3 separate regions of the Homo sapiens genome follow, and regions 1 and 2 are each reported to be linked to region 3. The links are microRNA targets in miRTarBase. Many come from high-throughput screens and were not tested one by one. Region 3 holds a microRNA gene; each other region holds the end of a gene's coding sequence.

What was found. Region 3 holds the annotated microRNA hsa-miR-223-5p (CGUGUAUUUGACAAGCUGAGUU, at 1,541-1,562, shown strand). A microRNA usually pairs through its seed, bases 2 to 8, with sites in the 3' UTR of a target mRNA and lowers its output. Matches are read on the target gene's strand: a 7mer-m8 pairs with bases 2 to 8, a 7mer-A1 pairs with bases 2 to 7 and ends in A, and an 8mer does both.
Region 1: miRTarBase lists MLLT3 as a target of hsa-miR-223-5p. Seed matches in the 3' UTR shown: 7mer-A1 at 4,461-4,467.
Region 2: the mRNA of MMADHC is a reported target of hsa-miR-223-5p. Seed matches in the 3' UTR shown: 7mer-m8 at 605-611.

What each region holds. Positions count from the first base shown.
Region 1 is chr9:20,342,235-20,347,297 of GRCh38, reverse strand. MLLT3 (MLLT3 super elongation complex subunit) reads left to right here. Exons shown (of 11, transcript NM_004529.4): 11 at 724-5,063. The coding sequence ends at 855. It overlaps LOC124902129 (a long non-coding RNA gene), which reads right to left and starts at 179. Exons shown (of 4, transcript XR_007061434.1): 1 at 1-179.
Region 2 is chr2:149,565,329-149,570,391 of GRCh38, reverse strand. It overlaps MMADHC (metabolism of cobalamin associated D), which reads left to right. Exons shown (of 8, transcript NM_015702.3): 8 at 224-755. The coding sequence ends at 418. Among named protein-coding and RNA genes, the nearest start is that of MMADHC-DT, 19 kb to the left of the region's middle.
Region 3 is chrX:66,017,355-66,022,429 of GRCh38, forward strand. MIR223 (microRNA 223) reads left to right here and starts at 1,516; the gene lies at 1,516-1,625. It overlaps VSIG4 (V-set and immunoglobulin domain containing 4), which reads right to left. Exons shown (of 8, transcript NM_007268.3): 8 at 4,384-5,075. The coding sequence ends at 4,909. MIR223HG (MIR223 host gene) reads left to right here. Exons shown (of 3, transcript NR_170299.1): 3 at 1,470-3,072.

The DNA.
Region 1 (5,063 bases), not on the chromosome of region 3:
GTAATAAATATGTTTTTATTTTTATGTTAAAGTATAACAAAGCATTCAGGTAGATACATTTTCACCAAGTGACAACATCTTATGTAACTAGCACCCAAGTCAAACAACAAAACAGTTCCAGTACTCTAGAAGGCTCCCTTGAGCCCCCTCTGGTCACTATCTGTTAAGGGGGTGGGATTGTAGACAGTTTCTTTCTTTTCCTTTTTTTTTTTTTTTTTTTTTGGGAGTTCCTGTATTTTCCAAATTATTAACAATTATATAATGATAAAGGAAAATGATTTTATATAGGGGTGTGTGTGTGTATGTGTTTGTACTTAAGTAAAAGTAGTTTTGTTATTTCTCGGCTGGATTTTTCTTATGTCTATTAAGTATAATCACTGTCTATTGAGTCAGTAACTAATTTTTAAAGGAGTCTTGAAATGCTATCTCCCCCTAACTGCTCACTCACAGTTAAATATTCTGTTCATGACTTGAAAGCAGACATCAGTTTAAAGGGTATGAAAAGCAAGACAGGTTCTCACTGGGAATTTCTAAGGCTTAATATACCTTTGACTTATCAAGTTGACTGAGACAGTTTAATGCTATTCATGGTATGGGACCTTGTTGCTATAAATACGAATATTTATCACTTGATTCCATATTTGATCGCCCCTCCATTACTCTCTCTTTGCCTTTTGATGTTTGCTGCGTATTGCCCAAACTTTCTCTTCTTCACTCCTCTAGATCGTGAACCTTATAGAAGAAACTGGACACTTTCATATCACAAACACAACATTTGATTTTGATCTTTGCTCGCTGGACAAAACCACAGTCCGTAAACTACAGAGTTACCTGGAAACATCTGGAACATCCTGAGGATATAACAACTGGATGCATCAAGAACTATTGTGTTTTTTTTTTTTGGTTTTTTTTTTTTTTGGTTGTGATTTTTTGTTCTTGTTGTTTATATGAAAACACTCAAAATGATGCAACCAAAAGGGAAAAAATAAAAATCAAACAACCTTCAGCTTTATTTTTCTTTAAAGCCAGTCATCATCTCTTGATAAAGGAGAGGTTAAAGCAAACCAGCCTCAGCGGACCACTCTTCTCTCCAAGGAAATCCCCGGGAAGAGTTAGCCTGGATAGCCTTGAAAACAAACAAATCAAACACAACACAAGAAAACTCAAAGAATGTGTATGGTATCATGTATCTCTCTGTGGTGGTTCATTCCACAGGACGAATGCATATTCAACACACTGCCTTATTACATAACTGATCTATTTATTATCGCATACAGATATTCTAAGTCGTTGAGGGAATGACACCATCAGACATTATAAGTACTTGGTCCCGTGGATGCTCTTTCAATGCAGCACCCTTGCCATCCCAAGCCCAGTGACCTTACTCGTATACCGTGCCACTTTCCACCAACTTTTTCCAAGTCCTTTAACTCGTTGCAGTCTGTATTTTCCACCTTTTGTTTTTCCAGTTCCAGGACACAGATTATCAACTGGGGGGACCAAATAGCCACCTTGATTTTCTTCTTTGTGGTCTTTTTCCTGAAAGTTGGGGCCCAGTCCTTGGCTGTATCCATGTAATGATCTTGGACCATGGTAGAAAATGCACCAAATAGGATCATATGAATTGCTGTCTAGCCTTAGTCAATAAACTTGTAGGACTTTTAAACAAAAGTGTACCTGTAAATGTCCTGAATCCAGCATTGTTGAGCTGTCATCAACATTCTTGTGTCTGTTTTACTGTTACAATATTAGGTGAATATGGAAGTAAAGGCATTCCACAGGATCATCATTTAAAAAAAAAGAATTCTGGTCCTGTTTTCTAAAAAAAAAAACTGTTGTAGAAATTCTTAATTTGGATCTATTTATTAGTCAGAGTTTCAGCTTTCTTCAGCTGCCAGTGTGTTACTCATCTTTATCCTAAAAATCTGGAATCAGAGATTTTTGTTTGTTCACATATGATTCTCTTAGACACTTTTATATTTGAAAAAATTAAAATCTTTCTTTGGGGAAAAATTCTTGGTTATTCTGCCATAACAGATTATGTATTAACTTGTAGATTCAGTGGTTCAATACCTGTTTAGTTGCTTGCTAATATTTCCAGAAGGATTTCTTGTATTGGTGAAAGACGGTTGGGGATGGGGGGATTTTTTTGTTCTTGTTGTACCCTTGTTTTGAAACTAGAAATCTGTCCTGTGGCATGCAAAAGAAAGCAAATTATTTTTAAAAGAAAAAAACCAAAGTACTTTTGGTGTCATTATTCCATCTTCTCCATAAGTGGAGAAATGAAAAGTAAGAACAGCTCATCTTCAAAGTTTTTACTAGAAATTCAGCCGAAAAGAAGAGAAATGAAGAAATACTTCTGGATCCAAAGGTTCGTCACTGGATCAGCCTTAAGAAAGTCTCTATGTGTGCTAATAGACCAGTATCTCCCTTGTTTGTTCCCATGCCAGATGCTGTCTTTTCATACAGAGATTAACTAGTGTCTGTACAGAAAATGGTCTTTCCAGACCCATTCTTTTGGGCAGTTATATAAATGCAGATTGATAATGGAGTTATTTCTGCATTTTAAAAAGGGGATTTTTTACACTGTTTCTTTCTATCCAAAGAAACTATTTTTCCTTTAAAAAATTATAATACAGCCATGCTCCTTGTAAATTATTTCTCTGAAGCGTCCTCCCAGAGGACAAGTGTACTTTCTCAATAATGTTATGATTCTTAATGACGATTGGCATGAACCGTACTTGAAGCATTTGTTGTATTGTCCACTTCTTGATGTGCAGAGAAACTTTGAGTCATTTTGGACATTAGGTGATTGATGAATTGTGTGGTTTCAGTTGCGTTTTGTTTTTAACTTTATAGCTGGAAGGGGAGGGTAATGTTTATATGGAAATGTTGCAAATTTTTAAAATATTTTAAAATTTCTAACTGCTAACACATATTCTGATCAAGCCAGAAGTTTATGTGATTTAATATATCTGTGTAGTTTAACTAGAAACGTATATATGTAGTTTGGGCCATTTTTATTTCTGTAACTAAATTGTGGGGCAAAAAATATGATTTGCCAATGTAAAAATTTTTTCCTTTAAGTTACTAACCAAGAAGCTAGGTAAGATAAGAAATGACCAAACAAAAATAATGATAAGAAGGACAGCTATTATATGATAAACTTTAGACTTGAAAATTAGGTAATAAAGTTAATTTCTTCAGAATATCCTAAAATGTAAGTTTGTAAATTGATAAAGTTCAGAAAAACTTATCCATCTTCTACTCATCAAGATAGCAAAGTAAGTTTTTCACAAAATTAAGACTGAGAGTTACGTTATTTTTTTTGAAGTGGTAATCTTGCTCTCATCTAATTTTTAAATACAGAAATAAAAAGATCCCTTTGAATTAATTTCAAGTAGTTTTAATACCTCTCTTAAAGTAACCCCTTCAGTTCTGTCACATTTATATACACCCAACTTTGAAGCCTATTAAGAATATCTTTGACATGTGAGTACCCTAACAGTGGCTCTGGTTTCTTAAGCACAAAGGGAAAATGGCAGGGTTTAATTTCTTTGGTGTACATATATAAATAGATGTTTCAAATAAAATTAATTGGGTAAATGTGAATATGGTTTGAACCAGCCAGAGTATGATAAACTTTTAAAAAATTTTTCCTCAGTGATCAGCCAGGGGAAAAAATATATGTACAGAGCTCCTGCCCCTCTGCCCCCTTATAACTTAGCTTTTGCCTCTGGTTTTGCAGCAGGATGTGTGTTGGTGGGTTTGGGGTTCCTTCTGTCTTCGGATGTAACAGTCATGTTAGCAACAATATTTTGCAGTTACTTCACCATCCTCAGCATAATCTGCCTCTCTCTCAATCTTAATACAGACAAATAGGTATGTCTATAAATGCGTTCATATAGTGTCAAGGTAGGGAAGACTATAAAAACTTCAGATCAGGAAAAAAATATCTCTTAAGAGAGTGTCTTAAACATTTTAAATTGCTAGGCAATTTAAATCTCTCTAATCTGAATATTCACCTTTTGGTGGAAAGAGCCAGTAATATTGGTTTTCTTCCACTAAAAAGTTTCTTCAAAATTTTTTTTTTTTTTTTTTTTTTTTTTTTTTTGCCGATATCTTTTACAGGCCCACCTAATCTTTAAAAAAAAGAGAAGAAACAATTTTAGGCCTGTATAACATCCTATTTACTACTTCAAGCTCCACAAATGTAGTTAATATATTTGTTTAAGAGAGACTTTACTCTTAAATGTTTTAACTTTGCCTACTTAATGGAGTTGGATGTCCAGTGTTGGAAACAGTCAGTGTCTGTTTGGTGGCTCGTGTTTATTTTTGTCACTGTAGAAGTGATCTGCTCTGGAGTAATTTGCTGTATGCTTATTACTTTCCACCTTTAGCGTTTTGTGTACTAATGCTATGTACTGCTCCTATATTTATATATACATATATATATATATATACACATATATATTATCAGAGTAATCTTGCTTTGGACTGTTGCTCTAAAACTATGAATATGATGTAGAGACTACTACAGCTGCAGTGAATGTTAAGGAGTCAATTCCCATGGTTTAGTTTAGTCTCGGGCTGGAAGTCTACATCTTTTGACCTCTTTTGTTTTATATGATGCTTTTTATTATGTAGGCACTGCCATCCCTGAATATTCCTTGTAAAGATGCAGTGAAGAAGTCAATTTAAAAGGAAGACAAAGCCACCGCTGTCTGTAAACTGTAAATGTGTATTTTGGCACTTGTACTCCAGTATTCTGAAAATAGAGTTATGATGGAAATGCTGACAGATCCTTAATGGTGGCCAGAGCTACCATGCAGTGCAAAAATAAATTAAGTGAAAATGTATTATTGAGATTAACAGTGCAAGGCCAATACATTTTATAAATCTGTCAGTATCTTTTTAATGGACTGTGTATGTGTAGTTATGTTGAAAGATACATTGTGTATGTGTACATGCTTTTGTGTGAATTCAAGGCACACTGTAAGATGTATTTCCCTTCTCTAAAATCCATGTTGAAATGTAAGTACAGATTGATAGAAATAGGTGTT
Region 2 (5,063 bases), not on the chromosome of region 3:
TTCTAGGTAACATGTAATTTGCTAGATCATTTCAGATTTCCAGAATGCATAGGAATTGGAGGAAAGGGATATTAAGGCGGTTTAAGTGTTGCATGTGACTTTTTACTTATTTAGTTTTTTAAATATTTGGAGTATTAAAGTAGATAGGTGTTCATGTTTACCTAAAAATTATTACTAAAATGTCTTTCTTACTAATGAGAATATTTCGTTTTTATTTCCTCAGTTTTTTGGACCATATACAAACAACACTCTTTTTGAAACTGATGAACGCTACCGACATTTAGGATTCTCTGTTGATGACCTTGGATGCTGTAAAGTGATTCGTCATAGTCTCTGGGGTACCCATGTAGTTGTAGGGAGTATCTTCACTAATGCAACACCAGACAGCCATATTATGAAGAAATTAAGTGGAAATTAGCAGAAATATCCATTCATTTGCTGTACTATTTGTATGTAATATTTGGGTTGATCTATAAACACTGTCAGACTAAAGTTTTTAAAATATATTTATTTCTAAGTATTTATTTCAGCATTTATGAATTTACAACATTGGCAAGTGATTTGGGATTTTAAAATTGCAAATGTTCATTTATTCATATCATTGAATACACGTTGAACACATCCACATTGTATAGGATGTGGTAATTAGCTTGTAACCAGGGTATGATCTGCTATTGTTATTTCTCCTCTTTATTGGAAAAAGGCCTCAGTTTTAATTATTTTCTTCCCAAAATAAATCACACATTTGGTTACAATAATGTGTGTTTTCATTACAGTATTTTTTAAATACCATTATTGATTCTTAAGTTTCTATATTAATCTTTTTAAAATTCTTTTTAATGCAATTGAGAATTTTGGATTCATTGTAGACTTTTTCAAATTTTCTTTTATCTTTATTGTCTATTAAGTGTTGGGGTACCAGTCTGAGTATTACTTTGAAATAATTTATGTTCAGGAAAAGAAGAAGAAGGATAATACATCTTTAAACGCATATGAGTCTTGTCCTTATCCCTACTAAAAAGGTAATTCTCTCTTAACTCCTGAGTTGAGACAGACAAATAGAACTATGCCTTAACTGACAAATTTATTTTTCAATTTTAGCAATAGGTGGAAACTGCAGTACTTTACAGAGGTGCCTCATTTGAGACAGAGCTTGTTTTTACAGCATCATAAACTTCATCTTTCATTTTTGAAGCTTTTGCAAATAGGAATAGGCAGATCTAAGGAGTAAATGTAACTTCCACAAAATGAATTGAAATAGATTTTTTTCTGTTTTTTCTTCTTTGCATGAAATGCCTGTTTTGAAAAGGACTACATGGAGATAACTTTTTAATCACACCTTGTTTTAAAACCCCTAGCTTAGTTAACATGTCATTTGATAAGAGGTGTTGCTTACGATCTAGAACTAGAAAGTTTTCATTTATTTTGAAATGATGAAGTGTAGTGATTGCCACAGCATTTAGAAGAACATTTATTGAAGTGTATATATATATATATATATGCACATCATATGTGCTCAATAAATTTTTATGTGTGTAACCAGCACCCAGATCAAAACACAGAATACTCAAACACACTCATCCTGCTCCCTTCTAGGTACTACATGCTCCCCAGCCCTTGCCCTTTCCGTGAGTAACCACTGTCCAGGTTTCCTTGTACAGTATAGGTTGGTTTTGCCTGTTTTGACGCTTTATATATACGTAGACACACATACACATGTATATATACACACACACATTTTACATATATATATGAAACTGTATAATGTGTTCGCTTCAGTGTCTGGCTGCTTTTACTCAACATTGTGAAATTAATTCCTGTTATCGTATATGGTATCAAATTTGTTTGCCTAGTTTTTGCCTTCTCATTGCTTCTGAATTGGGGCAGCTTTGCCCCTCAAGGGAAATTTAGCAATGTCTGGAGACATTTTTTATTTTCATAATTTGGAGGGACATGGGGGAGTTGTGCTACAGAACTTAGTAGGTAGAGGACAGGGTTAGTGCTGAACGTCCCACAGTACAGAGGACAGCGTTACACAATACAGAATTTGGTCAAGTACCTTGCACCACTCTCATTATTTCTAATGTGTATTTTGCTTATTCAGCCATTTCCTACCTTGCACCATTCTTTAAGGCAAGTTCCCTTGAAATTTCAACATTTGCTTTAACAATTAGGAAGTGTCACTTACTGATCGAAAATGATACTTATTCCCTATAGGTGACTAAGTCTGTGCATTCTGTTGTACTGAGATAGGGTACATGGTGACGAGACTCTTTATCAACTTGCTTTTTAACAGGATTTCCAGAAACAAATATGATCAGCAGTAACTGTTAATTAAAAACTTTTTTTTCTGAAGTATTATGGCAAGATTCAGGTTTTAGAAATATAACTCAAGGAACTCTTACTGAATGATAATAATATAAAGTGGTTGACTATTATGTACCACAGAAAAAAACACCTCAGGTAACTGTTCACTTGATCAGGACCTTGTGGACAAGAAAGGATTTGTAAAATTATATATCTTAAACATAAATTTGCTACCTTTTAAAAAAATAAGACTGAGCCATTGAAATTACTATTAGATCTGTCACTGAATAAAAGTTTATTTGTTAAAGTTATGTTTTCACAAGAACTTAGGAATTTTTGTTCTTGGATGCTGGTTACATAGATGAAAATTTATCAAGCACATAGAAATTAAATGCTGAAAGAGATCTTTCAGATCATGTCATCCACATTCCTCATTTTATGGTAGACAAAATGGGAAACAGGAGCATTTGCATCAGGTCACACAGCTAGTGTTAAGACCCAGCACTGGGACTTGGCCAAGAGTCCATTAGTTATATATATTTCTTTTCTATATTCACTTCATGGTCATAATCAAGAAGTCTATTAAGTGTCTGATTAAAAATATCAAAGAGTTGCAGAATTTAAAGTGAAAGAACTTTTGGGTTAACTGATAATGCTGCCACTTCATAAACTTAGGAATTCATTACATTGAACGCTATGTGCTTTTAGTTTCTTTGAAAATTTACTGAAACATGTATCTAAAAATTCAATTATAGAATGCTAGACTTCAAACAATAGTTCTCTAGCTTCAAGTTTAAAACCTTCATGTCTTTCTTGGGCTTCTGTTACTTGTAATATCAACCTAGTCCTTACATTTGAACAAAACTCTCTTTTTAGTTCCAACTCTATATTCTCCTTGTGACTGTTGTCACAAGGAGGGTTTATCCACTTCTGCACTATTGACGTCTTGAACCAGTCTTTGTTGTGTGGGCTCTCCTAGACATTGTAGGAAGTTTAGCAGCATTCCCTAGTTTCTGCTTATTAGATACCAACAGCAAGCCATGGTTATGACAAAAATGTCTTCCGTTATTGCTATATTTCTCCTATGGGACAAAATACTTATCAGAAGTCAAATTTAACCAGGTGTTCTGAATTTTATCTGACAACTTTATCACTGGGGTTGAGAACCACTGATTCAAAGTCCTCAACTTTAACTGTACATTTAGATCCCCTGAGGGCATTTAGTACTGATGAGTTGGCCTCACACCCACATATTGATATCATTAGTCTGATGAGGTTTGGACCTAAGTACTTTTTAAGGGTTTCCCAGGTGTTTCAGTGTGCATTCAGGGTTAGAACCTCTGGTCGGTCCTAAAACTCAGTAATAGTTGGTGGATTAGAGGCATCTAAGGAAATAAGAGTAAGATTTGCTAATCTATTTAATGTATTAAGGAGCTATAGAAAAGAATGAAGGCTCTAATATTTTGCATTAAGAGAGACCTAATCAGGCCTAAATCAATTCAAGGATTTGAGTCACACTTCCTCTATGAAACCTTTCCTGGCTCTTCATCCCTCACTGGTCTTTTCCTTAATTTATATAGTACTTGGTCTCCACCACACGATTTTGTACACAGTTCCTTTATATTTTTTTGTCTTAAATCTTGCCTCCCATACTTGGAAAGTAAGGACCCAATTTCCTACTAACTTAAACACACCATTGAATATGCAGTAATAACTTTCCTGTTATCCTCTCATTCCTAACCAGGATATTTTAAAGTTTTTCATAGGGTTTTCATTGCCCTCTTAGAATACATGTAAACTGTAACTTAATTATGTAGACTTAAGGCTTTGAGCATTTTTTGTTTTTTGAGACTTTGAGCATTTGTCTTCCATTCATTACTGGAAATTATAATCAGTTAAAACCATGTCACTACTATAAAAAGCACATAAGTGGTCACTTGATTGATCACAGAGGTGACACTGCAGTGCAGTGAGAAAAGAAGGATCTTTTCAGTATATATTGCTGGGTCAATTGGATATTCATATAGAAAAATGTATTTTTACTTTTACATGACACATACATCAAAATTCTAAATTGATTCCAAGTCTAAATTTGAAAGGTTAAAGCTTCTAGGGGGAAAAAAAATCTTTGTGCTTTGGAGTAGACAAAGATTTGTTTTTAAGAGAATACAACATAATCATATAAAGGGAAAAATGATTAATTGGATCATGTTAAAAGTAAGAACCCTTGGCCAGGCGCCATGGCTCACACCTGTAATGCCAGCACTTTGGGAGGCCGAGGCTGGCGGATCACCTGAGGTTGGGAATTCAAGACCAGCCTGACCAACATGGAGAAACCCCGTCTCTACTAAAAATAGAAAAAATTAGCCGGGCGTGGTGGTGCTGTAATCCCAGCTACCCAGGAGACAGGAGAATCGCTTGAACCTGGGAGGCGGAGGTTGCGGTGAGCTGAGATCATGCCATTGCACTCCAGCCTGGGCAATGATAGCGAAACTGTCTCAAAAAACAAAAACAAAAAACAACTAAGAACTCTTAATTCATCAAAAGACATCATGAAGGAGAAGGCAGCTAGCAGAGTTAAAGATAAATACATACTCAACAATCTGGCAATATACATATCCAATAAACAGCTTGTATTCAAAATATATAAAGACTCCTAAAATCAGTAAACAAATAACCACCAGAAAAATAAACATTTACAAAGAAAGATACTCAAATGGTCGGTAAACACGGTAAGGTGCCATACTTCATTAATC
Region 3 (5,075 bases):
TGCTGGGTGGATTAGGCTGAATTGGGTAGGTAGAAAAGGAAGTGAGGGAGTGAAAGAGCTTTAGTTTTGAGATGACTGCCAGAACTTAAATTGAAGGAGTATGTTACCTTCTTAACATTCAATTAAAAGAATAGAGCAAGAAAAGACACTGATTGTTTTCTTGCTGAAAGACAAGGCTGAATCCCTCTGTCTTACCTGGGCTGGGACAGGGCTTTCCGGCCTCATGGGGGCAGTTTACCATTTCTGGTAACCTTGTGATGTTTGCCACTTTTCATGACAATATTTAATGTAGACCAGCTACCTGCTCACAGATCAACTGCCACAGCTGGTAAGGGCAGTAATTTGACACCAGCAACCTGGGATTTTTAGCAACAGGATCTGATTGTTGCCAAGGGAATTCTCCCAGAAGTTTCAGACCTGACCCTGCTCCTGGCAGCTTCCTTATTGCCCTGGTGGCTTGTGGGTTCAGTGATCCCAAATGTTGCATTACAAAGCTATTGCCTGTTTTTGCCCTCTTTGTTGATGTGTCTTCCCTTTCCCAGAGGGATATACAGAGAAGGGAGGCAAAATAACCAATGAGGAAAGCTGTATAAGGCATACTGCTGAACTGTAAAAAATTTATTGTATAAACTTTACAAGTCTCCTCCCCAACAGGAGCCTTTGTTATCTCATTTATAACCTAAGTGAGTGAGACTAGATGATCTTTAAGGGCACTTTAATAGCTGCCATTCTTGAGTCCCTATGGGACAAGAGGATCATGTTAGGCAAGGCTGAGACCACAAGAAATCAATGTCACACCTGTCCAGATCCTGCTAAATCAATTGCCAATAGCTCTTTCTTTCATTTTGGTCACACAACCACTACTTTTTGAGCATTTGTTATGTATTGAATACTGAACCAAAGGCTTTACATGCATTATCTCCTGTCATTCTCACAATAACCTTATGAGGTAGGTATTATACTTACATACATTTTGTGGGTGTAGAAAACTTGAGCTCAGAGAGGTGAAATGATGTATCCAAGGTTGCCTAACTAGCTAATGGAAGAACTAGGATTTAAGCTCATGTTTAACCTCAAAGCCTATGTGCATAACCACAACACTGAAAACACAGCTTGGGAGAATTGAGAAGAGGGAGCAAGGATGCTGACTCTAGGGTCTGGTACTTTCCTCAAGTCAGGGAGGCAGGATGATGACCAAATTTTCCCCTCTCTGCTGCATAGAGGAACCCACTGAAGCTTGGGACCCCTAGAAATGCCATAGCTACAGGACTCAGGCCTGATGAGCTTCCAGCTGAGCACTGGGTGTCACTCGGGCTTTACCTGCTTATCTTCAGGATCTCTCTTCTGGTTAGGAACCCTATGCCTATTTTGCTCACTTCCCTATTCTGGTGCTTTGGTTGGTCCTTTGAGCAAGATCCCCGGGGCTAAGGGTGTGACTTCATCATTCCTTTCTCTCTCTTTCCCTCTAGGGTCACATCTCCCAGGAAGATCTCACTTCCCCACAGAAGCTCTTGGCCTGGCCTCCTGCAGTGCCACGCTCCGTGTATTTGACAAGCTGAGTTGGACACTCCATGTGGTAGAGTGTCAGTTTGTCAAATACCCCAAGTGCGGCACATGCTTACCAGCTCTAGGCCAGGGCAGATGGGATATGACGAATGGACTGCCAGCTGGATACAAGGATGCTCACCAAGCACCAAGTTCTCACAAGTTATTTTATGTGACTTTGCAGGAACTGAGGCATTATATCTGAGGACACCAGGGGAAAAGTGTGGCATCTCAGGGAAATACAGCCCTGGGCTGTGTCTACACACACCATGAGAGTGCTGATGGGGGCGCAATAGTCTTGAAAATGTATAAAGTGTCCAGGAATGGAAGTGCTCTTTGATTCATTATTATTTTCTTCCTTCATATTCCCCTCCCAGAGTCTCCTATCTAGGACATCAGCATTCTCACACAAGCCTAATGGCTTATCTGAGTAAGCAGGGCTTAGAAATTCACTTTCTTGATACTCAGTCTTGCCTTCTAAACACTCCTTGATCTTGCCTACCTCTCCCCTTTTCCACATGTCTTTTCCTGTAGGAACACTTTCTCCATTTATTCCTGCCTATCCAATTCTTCCCTATATTTCCTGGACCAGCTAAAGTCCAGTGTTTCCAGAGACTTTTGAAAGTCAACTTACACTTTTTCCTTCTTCATTCACAAAGCTCTTCTTCCCTGGGCCCTGGTATGTATGCCTTTCTCTCCTACTGTCTAATAGCACCTCGTAAATTGTCAATGAACTTTTCTAAGGGGTATTCTTGAATTCCCAACTAGATTGTGAGCTTCTGGAAGACAAGGCTATGTCTTTGATTGTTGTCTCCCCTACCACAGCCCAGTACTTTAGTTACAGAAAATAATAAATATTTACTGATTGATTGACTTTCCTCTTGTCCACTAGCTTTAGGTTTGGGGGCCAAATTCTACCCTGGATTTTGAAAAATTCAAACTGTGAACACCACAATGTTATAGAGCATATGAGGTAGTAGCCAGCATGAAGGATGTTTTCTTCCTGAGAAACAGTGTCAAGGGCTGGAGGAAGAGGGCAAAATAGCAGACTCAGAGGGCAAATAAATTTTGGTATTACTTGGTCACACAAGGTTATACAGGTGTTTTCTTGTAGGATTTTTCAGAGCCTTTAATAGTCTAATGTTGCATTGAGAATCTCAAAGAGGAAACCATAGAATGAGGCATTTGCCATACCTATCTGATCATGAATTTTCTTTTCCCCCACAGCCTTCTCCTGTGTCAATGTCCAATGAAGCACGATTTGGGAAACTGTCCTAGAGAAACTTTATACCTTCCCGCTCTTCTGGAGATCTTTTCCTCTTTTCATTCATCTACTTTCCCCAACCAGCCATCTGCCTAAGAAAGGTCACATGTTATCATCTCATTTTTGTTTAGCCTCTGCAGCTGTGGACTATCTTTATTACATAGGAATTCTTTACTAGCTTGTCCTGTATTTAAAAATATTCTAAGTTTTGAGGCAAAGAAGATCCAGATGCTGCAATAAATATATGCACTGAGGAGTTCACAGGCCTGACTTTTGGTCTCCTTTCTACCACTAACTGTGTTTTTGTTCCTCTCTGAGCTTCATTTTCTCATCTCCAATACGGAAGTATTAGAATCAGTGATCTCTAGGCTCTTTAAGATTAATGACTTTGAGATATCCCTGGGAGTCCTTAGCTCTTATGGAGCAGCGTCCCTGGATGTGTGGCTCCTTTTACCAGTGAAAATGCAACCAGGATTCTCTTCCCAACACCTAAAACTCACTTTTTCTATGGGTAGTAGGGAAAGATAATGGGTATTTTCAAAGGCTGTAGGGTCTGGACGCAGAGTTGTTTCATGAAGGAAGTTGGGGTTTCCACTGGGTGGAGGCCCTATTTCAGAGGCTTGTAAGCACGATGGGGAAGAAAGAGTTGTTCCTTTCGCCAACTAGGAGAAGCTAGCGTCTGGAATGAGGAAAATGTTGAGGTTTTTACCCTGGATTTGGCATGTTGGGTGGCGGTGAAGTGGAGGACTCCTTTTTGTTACTTTCGTGTACTATTTTGACTTCTGTAATCATTGCAAAAGGGGAGCAGCTCCTTGTGAAACATGAGCTGACCTAGGGGCTGCATGGGAACCAGAAATAGCAACATGGCAGCTTCCTTGAAGAGTGCAGAAGTTGATTTGACATTAATTACATCGAGAAAATAAAACTGTGTCAACCTGGGTCAGAACAGGTCCTCACAGCGGAGCCTGATTTAAAGGTGTAGGAACTTATGTACACATACAAACTCTCTCTCTCTCTCTCTGTCGTGCGCACACACACACACACACACACACACACACTCCTAGCCCTATTCCTCCTTGAAGAGAAAGGCTTTCTTGCTCTTATCCCCACCTCACATTGTAAGAAGGGGCCAGGAGCTAAAGAAGATAACATATGAAAAATGCAACTACCCCCAGGATTTTAAGATTCAAAGAAGTGGAAATCCTTGGGAGTGGTGCATCCATACTTGGGAAAGAAGGAAATCCCTTCATCTCTGCATTCATAGTCCCCTGAGACAGAAAGACTTTTTCTTTCTTAGGCTTCCAGTTGATGTGGGAAGAATCATCCAGGTGGACCTGGCAGGATGACAGGTTGGGTAATGGAAGCCAGGGGAGTACTGTTTAATCAAGTATTCACTGTTCTCCAGCTGGGCTTACCAGTGGAGTGAAGTAGGAGTGGCATGTGTGGGAAGGGGAAAGACCAAAAAAGCAAAAGTGACATCCATATTCTCGGGCCCCAGCCATCTTAACTAGTCTCACTTTAATTACTTTTAGTAGGTCCTACCATACTGTGAGAGAAGACCAACACAACTGAAGTTGCTGTTATGATTAGATATTTATTGAGCACCAGGAGAGAGTCAGAACATTAGACTTATAGTGGAGGAGCAGAACTGAACCCTGGCCTGTGAAATAACAATTTCAATTAAAAGCTGTCTGGCCCTGAAGAAAGAGAAATGATCCTGGATATAGCTGGTCCTCTGAGCTGGCAGAGCTGAGCCTCCCTCGGGTCTTCTGGTGGCAAGATGCCAAAGTTGAATAGTGTCTGTAGGCATGATGACCAAGTCCTAGTGCTATGGGCATCTTCCCTCTGGTATTTAGAGAGGAGTACCAGAAGCCCCCGGCAGAGATACTAGAAGGGCCCAGAGCCAAATCCAGCAGCTGGCTTACTTGAGATGCATCTGGCAAATTCCAGGGCAAAGCCAGTGACTCCCAGCGGCTCCAGTGTTGGTAGGCGGACACTTTGGGCTATCCAGGAAGAGAGGTAGCAGGGAAGAAGGCCATGCAGAAGGCAAGGACTGACTAGGCAATTATGTCAGCAGATCCTGGCCTAATGGGGCATTTTTAACAGACACTTTTGCCCTCAGTGGCCAGAAACTCATAATCCAGAGGAACTGTGTCCAGCAGGCGGGCGTAGTTGCCATTGATCTGGGCGATGATCTGGTACTCCTGTCCTATGCAGGGCTCATCAGAGTAGTTGTTGCCCAGATTCTGGGAAGTTGGCTCATCAC